2 separate regions of the Homo sapiens genome follow, and region 2 is linked to region 1. Evidence: fine-mapped QTL for protein levels in blood plasma. Region 1 holds a variant in brackets. A gene starts in the other region. All regions are shown on their reverse strands.

Evidence for each region. PIP is the posterior inclusion probability: the model's chance that the variant is causal. Protein levels are from antibody-based Olink assays in UK Biobank. Linkage for the fine-mapping came from a reference panel and not from the study's own genotypes, which makes the PIPs less certain.
Region 2: it holds the start of CD1C, and the variant in region 1 is fine-mapped to the plasma level of the CD1C protein (UK Biobank, PIP above 0.99).

The regions. Positions count from the first base shown.
Region 1 is chr19:33,264,162-33,272,491 of GRCh38, reverse strand. No RefSeq gene overlaps it. Among named protein-coding and RNA genes, the nearest start is that of CEBPA, 34 kb to the left of the region's middle. The variant A/G (reference allele first, on the strand shown) is at 3,825.
Region 2 is chr1:158,286,829-158,295,157 of GRCh38, reverse strand. CD1C (CD1c molecule) reads right to left here and starts at 5,235. Exons shown (of 6, transcript NM_001765.3): 1 at 5,033-5,235; 2 at 3,758-4,024; 3 at 2,793-3,074; 4 at 2,284-2,562; 5 at 1,856-1,946; 6 at 384-1,703. The coding sequence starts at 5,093. The coding sequence ends at 1,682. It also overlaps a transcript of CD1B not described here. RefSeq lists an enhancer at 8,185-8,314.

The DNA.
Region 1 (8,330 bases):
CATTCCCTCCCCTTCTCCAGGTGCAGCCAGACACCCCTCCCAGTCCCAAAGCCCCCTTCCCCATCACACACAGCCCTGAGGCTGTACACATCTCCTCTGCTAGCCTGTACCAGGCTGTAGGCCAGGCCACACCACATCAGTAGTGAGTGGTCGTCGGCAGCTTTCAGGCGCTCAATGGGCTTCTCTTGAGGTTCCCACCACCTTGGGCAGGTTGAGGGGGTGAAAAGATACCTGGCCAGGGGTCAAAGAGATAGGTCAGACAACAAGGGGTCAGTCGGGTCTAAAGAAGCCCACAGGACTGGGCACAGTGTCTCATGCCTGTAATCCCACCTTTCTGGGAGGCCGAGGCAGGAGGATCACATGAGCTCAGGGTGTAGTAAGCCATGATCGTGCCACTGCACTCCAGCCTCAGCAACACAGTTAGACCCCGTCTTCAAAAACAAACAAACAAACAAACAAAAAAAAAAACAGAAAAACAGAGAGGAGGCGGGGGTAACTCTGAATCCAGGAGATAAGGGCTTAGTTAACTGGTTAGTTGGTTAGATAGTAGGTGAGTTTGTTCACTCATTTGTGTCCTCCACTTGGGCTGGAGATGGAGTGACTCTGCTTCCTCCTCCGAGCAGCTGCTGGGCCCTGAGGGAGGACTGACCAGGCTGGCCCTGAACCAGGTGGGAAAACATATTTAATTCTCACCCTGCACCAGGAATCAGCCCATTACAGTCCCCAGGCCAAATACAGCCTGCCACCAGATTGGAAAACAATCTAAAGAAGATTTCATGACACATGAAAATGATATGAAATTCACGTTTCAGTGTCTATAAATAAAGTTTTATTGGAACACAGCCACACCCATTCATTTATGGCTGATTTTGCCCTGCAAAAGCAGTTGAAAAGCTATAGCAGTGACTGTCCGGTCCACAAAGCCTAAAATGTTTACCATCTGGCCCTTTGCAGAAAAGGTTTGTTGCCTGGTATCCTAGGCTCTCCAGCCACCATGCACCCAGCTGTCGCCTCTGCTCCAGCGCTGTTTCCGGTTTATGATGTGGAGTGAACAGAACCTCCCTCAGAGCATGGCGGTGAGGACTCCAGGTTTACCGTCGGCTGCTGGGCGGCATGGGTATCCCCAGGTCATGCTTTCTTAACTCCAATACACAGAAGCTGAGCACTTGTAGAGGCTGCTCTGGGCCTGGTAGAGGGCTGGCCTGATACCCAAGGTCTGCCCCCCAAGGGACACACACGGAGTTGGGGCATGGAGACCATGAAGTTGGAGGGGCACAGAGGAGAGACAGGAGCCTGACCTGGAATGCACAGATGGCTCCCAGAGGGAGTGATACTCAAACTAAGTCTTCTTTTAATTTTTAAAAGACAGAGTCTCTCTCTGTTGGCCAGGCTGGAGTGCAGTGGCTCACTGCAGCCTTGAACCCCTGGGCTCAAACAGTCCTCCCACCTCCACCTCCCTAGTAGCTAGGACTACAGGCATGCACCACCATACCCAGCTTATTTTTTAATTTTTTGTAGAGATAGGGTCTCACTATGTTGCCCAGGCCAGTCTTGAACTCCTGGGCTCCAGCAATCCTCCCAATGCAGCCTCCCAAAATTCTGGGATTACAGGCATGAACCGCCACATCTGGAAGCTAAGTCTTAAAATATAAGCAGAAATTATCCAGGAGGAAGGAGCAGGGACAAGCCTTGCAAGTGGAGAGAACAGCTTCAGCAAAGCTCAGAGGCTGAGAGTGGCAGGTCTGGACCTGGTTGGTGGGGAACTTGTAGAACCAGGTGATGGGGGGCTGTGGGCAATGAGAGCTCACCCTTCATCACCAGCCCCACCCACCACCTGGGTTTGGCCCAGGCTGGCAAGGGTGCCTGCCGAAGGCAGATATTGGCATCTGGCAGGGTGAGGTGGGGCATTGAGGGCAGAAGAGGGGGTGCCTTCAGGACCCCACCGCTGGCCAGCAGGGACACTGCAATTGGAGGAGCCAGATGGTGGGCAGGGCCTGGGGGCTCATCCCAGCAGGGCTGGGGTGCCAGGGCTGGGGCCGCCTGGTCCTGCCCCTGCCCCTGGGGCAGCCGGCAGAGTCCAGAGATGAGGCAGGCTGCCACAGGCGGGTAGCTGGCAACAGAGGCCTATTCTTCAGGATTTAAAAAGTCTCAAAAGGCGTCCAACTTTCCTTCGTTAGATGCTCCGGGATGTTTCCCCGTCAGAGGCTGCTCAAGATACCGGGCTGATAAGGGCCCGATTGAAGGAAGCTTAATTATGGCCCCGAGATGTTGGGGTAAACAGTCGGGAGTGTTTGTTTTACCGCCTCCTCTCTGTGCTAATGGGGGCACAAGCTAGGTGCCAGCTAGGGGGACCCAGTGACCCCAGGCTTTGTGGGTTCCCCTCACTGTCTCCCCATGGAGCGGGCCTTGGGGAGGGAGGCCGCTGGCCAGAGTTCGGCATCTCTGCAGTGTGGGTGCCAGGCTCCACAACCTCCTGCCCATTTGGCCACAGGGTACTCACCTGTCCGTGACAAGGATGGACATCGGGCATTAAAGGAGCTGTCCGTGTTGGTGCCTGGCATGGAGTGAACGCTGGGTGAATTCTGGACAGCAGCGGCAGCCTGGGGCTAGGGGCAGCTGGTAGCAGGAGTTTCCCTGGCGCTGTCCTGACCTTGACCCAGGCCACAACCCCCCAGAGGATGCATCTGGCTCCTCAACTCCATCCCGGGACCCCTGGATGGGCAGGGAGGTAGACCGGGGCTCGGCCTCTCAGCACCGTCCCCCATTTACCCCCACACCCCATCCCAAGGCCAGGATGTTCCTGGGGTGCCCAAGCCTGGTAAAGCACCCCTCCTGTGGGCATCACAACTCCAGGGGATCAGGGGCCACCATCCTGTGTGCCCTCCCTGGCGTGTGCCCACCTCCTACGCCCTCCCCCAACACCCACCACAGGCTCCCCCTGAGTGAGGAGTCCCAGGAGTAAGGGGAGCCCACTCTGTCACCCTGCACTCCCTCGAGGGCCCAGGGGCTCCAAAGGGCACAGCTCAGCTTTATTTAAGGGAGCAGCTCTGCTCAGGGGAAGGGGGCAGGGGGAGTGGGAGGAAAAGGATGGTGCCCCCTAGACATGCGTAGAGGCACACTCACCCAGACACACACACACACACACACACACACACACACACCCTCACCATGTACTGCCCAGGCCGGGCCAGGCCTTCTATTCCCTCGGCATCCAGGAATCTGCAGCTCTGCTCCCTGGCAGGCAGGGGTCACCGGCTCAGGGGGTCACAGGCTCAGGGCACCCCCCTACCCCGTGTGTGTGTATTTGCTCATCCACACACATAGGCCAACACGGTGCCCGTAAGTGTCTGCACCATGTGCCTGGGAGGGAGCAGGAGGAAGGGGAGACCAGGCAATCCATATTTTGGGTCCCTTGCGTGAGGCGGGAAGGGCACAAGGGGGCCGTTTAGGGTCACTCCAGCAGGACCCAGGCCCTCCGTGGCCTGGGCAGGTGCTCACATGACAGGCTCCATCGGAGGAGCTGTGGGAGTCTCTTGGGAAAGGGCCACAGTTCACCCTTTGGCAGATGTCACCGCCCCCAGAGGCTCGGAGCCCCCCTCGCTCTGTGGCTGTCCTTCAGGCTGGGGTGACCAGCCCCCCGCCAGGCCTTCAGCTGAGACCAAGAAGCCATTTTGGTCCGTGATGAGAAGAGGAAGTTCCTGCAGCCCCAAAACAGAAACAGGAAGCTGGGAGGGGGGCACAGGGATAGGGAACGGGAAGGGGACGCAGGCACCCGGCAGATGCACCCCAAATATGGGGCCTTCCTGGGGCCCACAGCAGCAGCC[A/G]TGTCTGGGTGTCTCTGCCCAGTCCCAATGCTGTGGGCCTCATCTGGGCCCAGCTGTGCCCACCAGGAGGGCAGACTCCCTGGGGACCTCAGATGCCCGCCCGCTCCCTGCCTGAGTGGCTCAGTTGCCCAGGCTTATCTGGCTCTGACTGAGAGGGCTCTGTGAGTGGCTGGAACCCCTCTGTCCACCCAGATGTGCCTGGCCACGTGCCTCTCCTTGGCCCCCAAGCGTAGCCCTGTGGGATTCTCCGCAGCGCTGGCCTGACTCCTTGACTCAGCAAGTCCAGGTCACCCTCTGTCCCCACCTCTGACCGAGCCCCCTGGTCGTGAGTCTGTGCGGCCGCCTGTTGGGTTCTGCTGTTCGCCACTGAGTCCCAGCCCTGGCCGTTTCCCCAGCTGTGATGTGACAGGGTCCCAGGCCCTCACCCAAACTTGGTAACAACACTCAGGACTGCCTGCTCAGCAGAGGTGGAGCCTGGACTCTGTTCCCCGGGGCCCCCTGCCTCACACTGTGTCCTGACCAGCCTGCCCTTTGCAGACCCCTCCTGCTCTGTGAGATGAGAGATGGAGTGTCTGAGAAACGTGCATGGGTCCCAGCCCGTTGTGCCCCCAAGCGGAGGGACGACAGGATCTAGAACCACGCACCAACCTCCGGAAGTGGGGCAGCTCCCAGTTCACGCAAGGGCGAGCTAGGCTGGGGCCACGTGGAAGGCAGGACAGCAGCTCCCACTCAGGGTGGGCATTGCCTGTGGCTCCTCGCTGGGTCTGGAGGCTCCTTCAGGAAGACTCTGGGGGTGAGGGAGCGGGGGCGGGAGTCAAGGGACCAGAGAGGCACATGTCACCAATTTCAGTTCTGCCCCAGCTGGCCTGAGGCAGCTCGGGACTTCCCAGGGTGGAAGGATAGGTCCGGGGGCCAGGCTACTTGGAGGCAGGGCCAGGTCTTGAGGACCCCCTCCCCAGCCCAGCTGTCTGCCGGGGAGGCAGCTCTGGGTTCCTGGAGTGGGCTGGCTACGGAGGTGTGTGCCTCCCTGGCGGCCCTCATCTCTCCCGGAGCCCTAGAGCAGGTCTTTCTAAGACTTCCCACTCATCAGCCCCGGCCCAAGATTATCACTACAAAAGACGTCCTTGGCCCACTGTCCCCTCAAAATGAAAGCTTTAAGAACAGCTGCCCAGAGGTGTCTGAGAAAAACTCCAGGATGAGAGTGAGGGGTACCAGGCCGTCAGCTCTCCCCAGGCTGAAGGATGAGGTGGAAACCACGAAAGCCCCCAAAACAAAGCCATCTTCTCCACACCTCCAGGCTGTTCCCTAAAGAAGGAAAGCGGGGAATGGGGTGGGGAGGGCGAGTGGAGCCCCCGCCTCGGGCGGTCAGCACCGGCGTCAGCAGGGAAGCAGGCCCCTGGCCAGGGAGCGCATCTGACCGGACCGACCGTGTTCTTGGGAGATCAGTTGTGAAACTTGCATCAAACCCCCAAACCACAAAAACGGCCAGTTTTCCCAGCTCTGTTCTCATGCTTCTCAGACCAGCCGAGGAGTCTTCAGCATCTCCAGCCGAGAGAAGCCAGGCCAGCTGCCAGCGCCGGGGGAGGAGAAAACCCCAAGTGCCTGGAGACCCGAGCCCCAAGTTTGCCTGAAGCACCCTGCTCCCTTCAACGAGCCTGGGAATGTGAGGTCTGGAGAAAGGGTGAGGCCTGGGCCGGCTCCACTGCACCTGGAGCCGGGTGCAGTGGCTCACGCCTGTAATCCCAACACTTTGGGAGGCCAAGGTGGGAGGATCGCTTGAGCCCAGGAGTTCAAGCACAACGTGGGCAACATAGCAAGACCCTGTCTCTACAAAAAATACAAATACTAGCCCAGTATGGTGACACATGCCTGTAATTCCAGCTACTCAGGAGGCTGAGGTGGGAGGATCACTTGATCCCACTAGTCTGAGGCCAGCTTGGGCAACATAGTGAGACCCTATCTCTATAAAAAATTAGCCAGGCATAATGGTGCTCACCTGTGGTCCCAGCTACTCAGAAAGCTGAGGCAGGAGAATCACTGAGTCTGCTAGTTTGAGACCAGCTTGGGCAACATAGTGAGACCCCATCTCTATAAAAAGTTAGCCAGGCATGGTGGTGCATGCCCGTAGTCCCAGCTACACAGGAGGCTGGGGCGGGAGGATCACTGGAGCCCAGGAGTTTGAGGCTGCAGTGAGCTGTGTTCGTGCCACTGCACTCCAGCCTGGGCAACAAAGCAAGACCCTATAATTAATAAATAAATAAATAAATAAATAAATAAATAAATAAATGGAAAAAGAAAACTGGAAATCAGAATAGAAGGACCCAGAAGCTGCCAGGGCCACCTCAGAAAGAATTCTGGAACACTGTTGCCTTGGGAAGATAACATCTGGCTGATGGAAGGTCAGAGGCAGGTTACCAGGGAAAGACTCCTGTTTGAAAAGAAGGTCACCGAGGCATCCCTCGTGTCTTCCCACTGCATTTGGTGCACAGCACATGACTCTGGTTCTCTCTCATTCAGGGCCTGGTTATAGCAGAAAGTCTGGCTCTCACTGAGCAAGGACCCAGATGGGGACACTCAGAGAGGTGGGAAAGAATCTCCCCCACCCCGCCAAGGAGGGATGCAGCTGTGCTGTAAGTGATGGTTAAAGCCATCTTTAAGAGAGGCAGGGCGCCATGGCTCACTCTTCTAATACCAGTGCTTTAAGAGGCTGAGGCAGGAGAATTGCTTAAGGCCAGGACTTTGAGACTAGCCTGGGCAACACAGCCATCTCTACAAAAAATACAGAAATTGGCTGGGCATGGTGGTGCCCACCTGTAGTCTCAGCTACTCAGGAGGCTGAGGTGGGAGGATCACTTGAGCCCGGCAGTTTGCAGCTGCGGTGAGCTATGATCGCACCCCAGCACTCCAGCCTGGGAGACAGAGTGAGACACTGTCTCTAAAAAGAAAGAGGGAAGAGAGAAGATGCCCGTAGCTGCTTTAGGTGACAAACGGCCTTGAAGCCGTGAAGGCCCACTCCCTTCCACAGGGAATGCAGCCCCATCTCCGCAAGCCAGTCTCTGAGGCCACCCCTTCTTGCTTCCTCCGCCAGATACCCTGCCCAGCCCCCTCCCCCAAAATGAAGCCAGGTGGGGACCCTCTGTGCTGCTGGCCTCCAGGCCCTGCCCTGCTGCCCCTGCCTTCAGCCCCTACCACCCACACCACCCTGAAACCCTTCCTCTCCCTGGCCACTGTACCTCTCCCAGACCGGCGGTTTGCCTCCAGCTGGAGCCTCCTGGAGGCTGGGAGAGAACCCCTCGCCTGGGTTAACTTTAGTGGTGATTCTAGAAGCAGGACGCTGCTGAGGAAAAGGCCAAACTGTAGCTTTGTCCGCTCCACCCCAAGCCTTTGCCTGAGCTGGAACTTTCCTCTAACAAGCCCTGTAAGAGGAGCTTCACACCATGCTCCCTGTGTGAACCATGGTACCTGTGAGTATTGGCAATGATATTATGCCAATGTGCTATTATGTGCATTTAGCATAAAAGCCACTTGTAAGTAGTCACGTGGCAAGACCACGGCTGGGGCCCAGAGAATCCTGCTGGGGGCCCATAACATGGGATTGGCCCCCTGGAGCTAAGGCCAGGGCTGCAGTGCAGGAGGCCCACACCCGCAGGGGATCCTGCCCGAGGGGCAGGGCTGGATGAGAGGCAGTGAGCCCAGAGCATAGACAGAAGACAGTGGGCGTGTGTGTGTCTTGGTCACTGCGTGCGTCTCTAGGTAACTTTGGTTTGCACGTTTGTGAGGTTGAGCGTCTGTCAATGTGAGTTTCCGTGCATGGCTGGTGACTGCATTTGTGTGTCTGTGCATGGGCCTGGGTACATCCGTGTCTCTCGGTGTGTTTATGGATCTGTTCATTCAATCACTGCCTGGTGCGGCCAGGCCCTAGACAGACTGGAGGGCTCGGTCCCTGCCCCATCAGGCCCACAGTCTGGCAGGAGGTGAGCAGGAAGTAGGAATTACACCCATAATCCCTAGGCAGGATGGTGACAGGGGGAGCTCACGCCTCGAGGGTGGAAGCCCCGAGACAAGGGACCTGCTGCAGCTTGGCACTCGGGGACCCTGGATGCTTTCATGAAGGACAGGAAAGCCGAGTGCCATAGGAGGCATGGGAGTTGTCATGGGGAGGAGAGTTTTCCAGGCAGAGGGGAGAGCATTTGCAAAAGCCGGGGCACTGAGGAGGGGTCGAGGCAGAACTGCAGGTGCTAGGAAGCCAAGGGGTGTGGGAGGTGAGGGCAGGAAGGACAGGAGCTAGACACGCAAGCCTGGAGGCCACCATGATAATGGTGGCTGCTTCCTAGAACCGTGGGAAGGTGAAGTTCGGAAAGCAGCCCGATCATGTGGTCATTTAATAATACGACCATTCTGGGCCGGGCACGGTGGCTCACGCCTGTAATCCCAGCACTTTGGGAGGCCAAGGCGGGCAGATCACGAGGTCAGGAGATCGAGACCATCCCGGCTAACACAGTGAAA
Region 2 (8,329 bases), not on the chromosome of region 1:
CTAGTCAGCCATCTTGTCTCTTCTCCCAAAAATAAGTTTAATTTTATATATTTTTGGCTTTATTTCCCAGTTTCCTGGGTGTCCTAGAATCCTCTCTATTGATCTCTCTGTATCTGCAGGTCACAGGGTGACTAAGGGTGCAGGAGAGTCACCTAGGGCCTCCTGGTGCCAAGGAAATGAGCAATGGAAGCAGGACCCAAGCTGGGTGAGTGGGCACAAGGAGACAAAGGCCCTGCCAGATCTGGGAAGCCACCTCCTCCTCCAAAAAAAGTTATATTCATACATGGAATTCTATTCAGCAATGAAAAGGAATGGTTACTAATACACTGAGCAGCATGGATTACTTACAACCATATGCTAAACTGAAGAAAAATAAAAGGCAATACCAAGTAGATATGTTTATTTCCATCTTAATAAAATCATAGAAAATACAAGTTTAAGCTTAAGTGACATAAAGTATATCAGTAGTTGCAAGAATGCCAGGTTGTTGGTGTGCTTGACTACAAACAGGTATGAGGGGTTATGACATTTAATATCTTGATTGTGATTTTGTTTACATGGGCTTATATAATTATCAAAATAAATAGAACTGTACACTTAAAGATTCAAATTTTACTATAAATTATACATCAATAAAATCTATTTAAAATTTTTTGAAATAAATAAAAACATGAAAACAATAGAAAAGAAACATGGACAGATTGAGGAAGCAAACATTGCAACTTCAGGAGAGTGGACACAATCTCATTTGTTTTATCCACCACCAGTTTAGAAGCTGTATGTGCCTGTCTCAACTCAGTACCCAAAAAATATTAGTTGAATTAGTGAATGAAACCTAAAGGGACTAAAGTTTAGCCAAGGCTATCTCAGATAACACAGTCCTTTAGGAAATTTGTCTTCCATATACAGCACAACGGTTGCCTTGATCCCACTCCAACCCTGAGGACCAAATCTCTTGTTCCTTTTCTTAAGTATTCTGTGACATATCTGCACCACTGATCATCACATGTAACTTGCACACTCTCTGTCTATTTGCATTTGTAATTCTCTGTGTTTAGAAAATAAGTGTATCAAGGCACAAGGCTGCACTTTTCCTTAAATGTTTAAGGAGAAAATGAGGGAGCTAAAGGAGAGTGGAATTTATCTGCTAGGTATGAAGCATTTAAACAAAAAGAGAAGCATGAATATTTCCAATGCTACAACAACATTGGGAAGGAATATAATGAGAAAAATTGTCAACATGACAGTTAATCCAACTTAGATATGATGTTTTGTTTTGTGTTTCACTGAGCCTATCATATGCAGGAAAGGCACATTTATCATGATCCTTGCCTCCTAAAAGCTTAAAAATGTGAAATGAAAGACTCAAGTAGCTGCAACACAGGGTAGGAAGTGTTGCATGCACATAACAGTTGAGGGGCTCTCTGGGTTCAGTATGGGTCAAGGAAGATCGTTGGAGGAAATGACATCAGAAATGGGCTTTGAAGGTTGAGTGCTATATAAAAAGTGGAGATTCCAAGAAAAACATTCCAAATTAGAATTTGGTTTTTATTAACAAATGTTTATTATGCAGAAAGAGAAACAATTTAAATGGAGAGTCGACGGGATGGCATCACTATATTGTACTAGGCTCCTGGGTTGCTGGGTTCTTAACACAATGGGGGAGTCAGGGGGAAGAGTCTCACAGGATGTCCTGATATGAGCTGTGAAGGAACAGGAATGGGAGAAACCCTGAATAAGTTGGAGGTGGTAACTGAGGATAAGGTGGAGTAGTCAATAGAGAAAAGCTAAGAGAGTGAAAAATGGAATGTGAAATAAGAAACTGGGAGGAGAGGAGGAAATACAAAAAACTCACCAGTGCTTCTTAAACCATAACACAAGGACTATTAGAATCACCAAGGGCACTATCACTACCAAGGCAATCCAATTCATGGAAAAGTGGTGTCCTGCACATATTGGAAAGATACATGGATGCCATTTTAAACTCACTGCTGATTCTATTCCATCTATTGATTTCCTTACTTAACATATGCATTGGATGAGTTGCATCAGTTATCCTATTTCAGTCACTCTATTCCAAAACTTACTCAAGGAAGGATTCCTCATTTCCCCTTAAATCTCTAGTATCCATGTATCCCTTAGGTCTTACTCCACTATTCTTTAAATTACCCTATACATTTCTTCCTACAATCCCTCACCTAGGTCTGCTATCCTCAAAATTTCCTCTCCCCTAACCTCTAGGCTCAAGAACCACCTACCTACACTTCCAACCTCCAGTCTTACCCCAGTAGAGGATGATGTCCTGGCCTCCTAGACTGCTGTGTCTCACTCGACAAGACAGGCCAGCAGGCTCCTCAGATGCCACCTCCAGGATCACCTGAAGATACCATGTCCCATCAGCATTAGGAAGAATATCACCATGTTTAGTGCCCAGTTGCTCCTGTTCATTCCGCATCCATGTCACCCAAACAGGCTTTGGGTAGAAGCCGGAGGCATGACAAACCAGCAACAGCTGGCCAGACCCAAGGCTGGGGCGACTGGACAGCCAGGCTTCTGGCCTCACTGCAGAGAGCAGAAAAAGTGTTCTGATGAAGAAACTTACACACAACTTACATCCACATACACACATCCACATGAATATGCACAGTTATCTTTTTCCTGCCTCTAAGAAACTATTACCCAGCAACCCCCCTGCTTCTTGTCCTCTTTCTTGTCCTGAGTTTGAAGGGTGGGAACAGAAGGGGCAGTACTTGAATAGAAAAATCTTAGAGGAAGGGGCTGAAACTACTGACCTTGCCTGTGTACATACATCTTCCCTGCATCCAGGAGACCCAAGAGAAATCGGGGGCAAGTGCTTCTTATGAGATTATACACTGTTTCTGTGACGCCTTCATACTGATGATTGAGTAGATGACAGACACTTTGGGCCAAACTTCCACAGCCTGGAGATGGCACCCATGTTGTATTCTGGAAACTCAGTAAATCTAATCCGTTGAAAGCTACCTGAAAGAAGCCTTCTGGGCTCTTTCCAGAATGCAGCTCACAGCCCGCTTTCACCTGTACTTCAAAGGGATCTGGAGGAAGGGAGGAATGAGAAAAAGAGTTCAAACAAAAAAGTGAAAACAACAGTATAAAAACCTAGGGCTGTATCAGGAAGTGAAGCAAGAAAGTTTTACATGGATGTGAGAGTGAGCCAAAGACATATTTGATCAGAAACAAGAGAGAAAAATTGCTGGGGATAGGGAAGGGGACAATAAGAGATAAATGCCTTGAATTAACAAGAAAAAGTGGCCAAGGAAGATGTGGAAAAATGATAGGTGAGCCACATAATATAGGATAGAGGGTGAAGGGGGAGCCTTTGTGAGGGAGGTAGGAGGATAGCATTCCATGACGCATGAAATTGGTCATAATGGTCATTGAACTGTGGACATAGATCTTTGAAGAAATTGAATGGGGGAATAGATTTTATTTTAAGGGAGTCAAGCACAGAGTGGGACAGCTGTGTATCTCTGGATTGTAGGATACAGAGGGAGACCACAGGTGGAAGATAACAAAGCACAAGAAAAAAAATTCCAAAAATAGCAAGAGCCTAGGAAATTTGAGGGAGTCAACATCAGGAATATCCCTTAAAAGGTTCATCTATGCAGAATTTTATGGTGGGATGGGATAATGGGAAATGGCCCAAAAATTAGTAGAGAATATTTCCCTGAAATAGAACATTCTAAAGAACTCCCATAATTTAGATGATTGAACTTACATTTCGAGTAATCTTGACTTGCATGGTCTTGAATCTCCCGAGTTAATCCAAAGAGGTAGAAACGAAATAACAACTCTAGGTCTGACAACTCTTCATTGCTGAAGTTGCCCTTGGACCAGTTATGCAGGAAAATTATTGTGCCTGATTCACTGTCCCAGCCATGAGTCTGCAACTCGTCCAGCCATCCTGAGCCCTGACCTCGTGCCCAGGATTGGTTGACAAATGAGAAGATCTGGATGACATGGAAGGAGACGTGTTCCTGGGATGCTTTTGGTGGAAGAAGGGCAAGTAGTGTAAGGAAAAAAAAAAAAAGAGAGGCAAGGAAAATGGAGAGAAAATGGAAGGTGAACCAGTTACCACAGAGAAACATTAATGACTACTTTAGCTATACCATTTTCCTTACACAGAGCCCCATGCTCTGCCACCATCCTCTAAAAGAGTAAACTGGACCTGGAGAGAGGTATGCTCAAATGGCAACCATTCTGGCTTCTTCATTGATCCATCTTGGGAAAGCCCATCATGCTCAACCCAGATACATGTAACCTTGCAGCTGACAGAGATGTTCATACTATCTGCATTGTCACCACCGGGGAGGAGAAGAACTAGCAGCGGAAACTACAGAAACAGCATGTCATTTGCAGTTGTTTCCTTCTCTCAGAAAAGCCATTTGCTGATCTCTGTTCTTAGCAAACTTATCCCTCTACATCTATATTCTGACTTCCTTCTACCAACAGACAATCTTCCCCATCAGCCACTGACAGCAACTAAGACAATCTGCTTCCCTTAACCTTAGGCCTCCTACTCAATCTCTCATTTCCCCATCTGCTCTGAACTAAAGTTACTCTCTTCCCTTAGGATTTTAGCTGCTCTCCCACTAAGCTCCATCTTATCTACTTCCCTTCCTCAACTGCCTTAGACAAAGTGGTGCGTGGCATTGAAAGGTTGCTTCATCCCTCTGGACCTTGCGTGTCATTTGTAACATAAAAAGGAGAAACCACATCATTTTCCTGGGCCCTGATTGTTTTAACGGAAAATGGAGAGGAAATGGAAATTGAACCAGTTACCACAGAGAAACATTAATGACTACTTTAGCTATAACATTTTCCTTACACAGAGCCCATGCTCTGCCACCATCCTCCAAAAGAGTAAACTGGACCTGGAGACAGGTATGCTCAGATGGCAAGCATTCTGGCATCTCTATTGATCCATCTCGGGAAAGCCCAGCACACTCTACCCAGATACATGTAACCTTGCAGCTGACAGCGATGTTCTTACCGTCTGCATTGTCACCACCTGGGAGAAGAAGAGCTAGCAGCAGAAACTGCAGAAACAGCATGTCATTTGCAGATGTTTCTTTCTCTCAGAAAAGCTGTTTGCTGATCTCTGTTCTTAGCAAACTTATCCCTCTGTACCTATATTCTGACTTCCTTCTACCAACAATCTTCCCCATCAGCCGCTGACAGCAACTAAGAAGATCTGCTTCCCTCAACCTTGGTCCTCCTACTCAATCTCTCATTTCCCCACCTGCTCTGAACTAAAGTTATTCTCTTCTCTCAGGATTCCAGCTGCTCTGCCACTAAGCTCCATTATATCTACTTCCCTTCCTCAACTGCCTTAGACAAAGTGGTGTATGGCATTGAAAGAAAGGTCATTTTGTCCCTCTGGATTTTGCATGTCATTTGTAAGATAAAAAGGAGAAACCATGTCATTTTTTCAGTTCCTGCTTGTTTTAATAGATCACAGTTCTTCCAGTTTCTCCACTTAACTTTGCCTCCACTCTCCATAGTGTCCCCTCTTCTCATCACTCCATTCTTTCTTTCCCCCTTTTGAATGTCCTCAAAGTTTTCTCTTTCCAATTTCACCTCTTTTCACCCATCTTTCTTATTTCCTCATTCTCACTGATTCTTTTATAAATTGGAGACGTTGCTTTTTACATCTTCCAAGATTTCCCTGCACAATTATATAAACTACAGTCCACTCTACATTATCCTTAGAGATTAAATTGCAGCCATTCAGAATGCATAGGACCATAACAAATATAAAGAAGCCCTTCTACTGCATTTAATCTGTATAGTCATTCACTAAAAAATTACATAGTACATGGTTGATACCAGTGTCTTACTAGGCATATAAACACACAGAGGTTAACAATGTAATCTCTTCTATCAAAGAGTTTTAAACTGCAGATGTTTAAACAAAAAATTAAAATGCATTGTGATTTTAATTTCAATGTATAGAATCCCAGATACAAATCTACTTAGAACTATATTCTCTAGAGCAGCATTTTGACTGACTAACCCCCTGGGAAGTTCATAATTTGAAGTCCTGGAAGAACAGCATGCATCTCAACTAAATACTGAAAATTCTGTACAGTGTGGAATGGTATACGATTGTGATAGTCAGAACATGCAGCTTTTCAAGAGGACTCATACATGGGGAGACCACAAAAATCCAAATTTAAGTTGTTTTGTGATCTGACCAAAACACATTGTATAAAAAGGGCAGCATTTGTCAATGTTTGATTTAAGTAGTTTATATGAAGTATTCAGTGACTTATCAGTGACCCTGGCTGGTTAATATGTGTAAATACATGAACACAGTTTTTTTGAGATCCAGGAAATACATTTATTATTATAGTGTTTCTTAAATCATATTAATTATTCACTGAATGCATTGGAGCAGTCACTTAAAATCTGGGCATGAATTTGTGCTAGGCACAATGACTCATGCCTGTAATCCCAGCACTTTGGGAGACCAAGGTGGGAAGATCACTTGAGCCCAGGAGTTTGAGACCAGCCTGGGCAACAAAGTTAGACCTCATCTCGATAAAAAAATTAAAAAGTTGGCCAAATGTGGTGGCACATGCCTGTAGTCCCAGCTAAATGGGAGGCAGAGGCAGGAAGATCTTTTGAGCCCTGAAAGTCAGGGCTGTAGTGAGCCATGTTCATGTCACTGTACTCCAGCCTGGGTAACAGAGCAAGACCGTGCCTTAAAAAGGAAAATCCCATTTGTAACATTGTTTCTGTTTTAAATTTATATTTATTCTATGTATTTACTGTGTACAACATGATACTTTGATATATACACTATTTCTTAGGTTTGTCAACGTTAATAGTGAGGCCAGAAGTCATTCTCAATGAGCTCTTCCTATCATGGCCACAGATATGTGGCAATTTCTATGAACTATAATATCTTTAAGAGCAATACCCAGTTCAAATCCTACCCAAATCATTCATAAGCACTAGGTGTTATCTTTGCTCATCTTGTGCTGTTAATGGCAAATACTTGGTTTGTGGTTTTAGAAAACAATAGTAGATACCACATTATGTGTTTATTCACATTTTTTTCCATGTTCCTACAGGAAAGATGCAACTGTCCTATTTCCTAATAGTTGGGTTAAGGTCATGGACTGAGTTCTGGGCAATGGAATGTGTGGTGTTGGAAGCATTAGCCAGCTCCAGTCCTGACCACTGAAAATATCACATCTGATCATCTTACCCTGTGGTACCAACTTGGCAGTCAAATTTCTAAATGGCAAGACTATGAGATGGAGAAGAGCAGCCTGATCTACATGCAGTTTAACTGCATGAGAAATAAACTTCATTGTGTTAAGCCTCCAAGTTCTAAAGTTTATTTATAACTGCAACATAACCTAGCTATATTGGATAATATTATAAAACCCAGTAAGTATCATCCTTTTTGCCCTCTTGAATTCAGAAGCAAACAAGTTGAAAATAACATGAGATAGATGGATCTAATGGTCAATCTTGACTTCTGATAGTGCCACTAGATAATTTGCTTTAAGTGTGTAATCCAAGTGATCTTGCTCATACTGGACCCTAAATGGAGTGGCCTTCTCATTGTTATGGACTGAAAGTTTGTGTACCCTCCCAAAGAAAAAAAAAATCACATGTTGAATCCCTAACTCTCAGTGTGATTATATTTGGAAATGGGGCCTCTAAGAAGTAATGTCAATCTCATGTCTAAACGGTAAGACCCTGATCCAATAGGCTTAGTGTCCTTATAAGAAGAGACACTGGAGTGCCCTTCCACTTTCCTTCTCTGTCTCTCTGTCTCTCCCTGTCGCTCTCTGTCTCTGTGTGTGTGTGTGTGTGTGCACCCACCATGGAAAGGCCATATGAGCTCATAGTGAGAAGGCAGTTGTCTGTATAAACCAGGAAGAGAACCTTCACTAGAAACTGAGTCTTCCAGATGGAGACTTTGAACTTCTAGCCTCTAGAGCTGTGAGAGAATAACTTCCTGTTGTTTAAGCCACCCAGCTGATTGCCTTGTGTTAGCACAGCCCAAGAAGACTAATACACTCACTTATTTCAGGCAATGCTGATAAAACCCTAAGTTCCCCACCTGAGCAGCTGTTCCTGTGAGAGCCAGGGCCTGGAGGAGGAGAGCAAGACTGAGCCTTTGGGGAGCAACTTGCCCAGAGAGGTAAAGGGCAGTAGGAGGTGCTGATATATACTTGCCCAGTTTCCCTCCTGAATTTATCAGTGAGATAAATCAGTCTGTTTTCAGAGGAAAGATTAAGGGGTGAGGAAAAAAAAACAAAAAGTATTT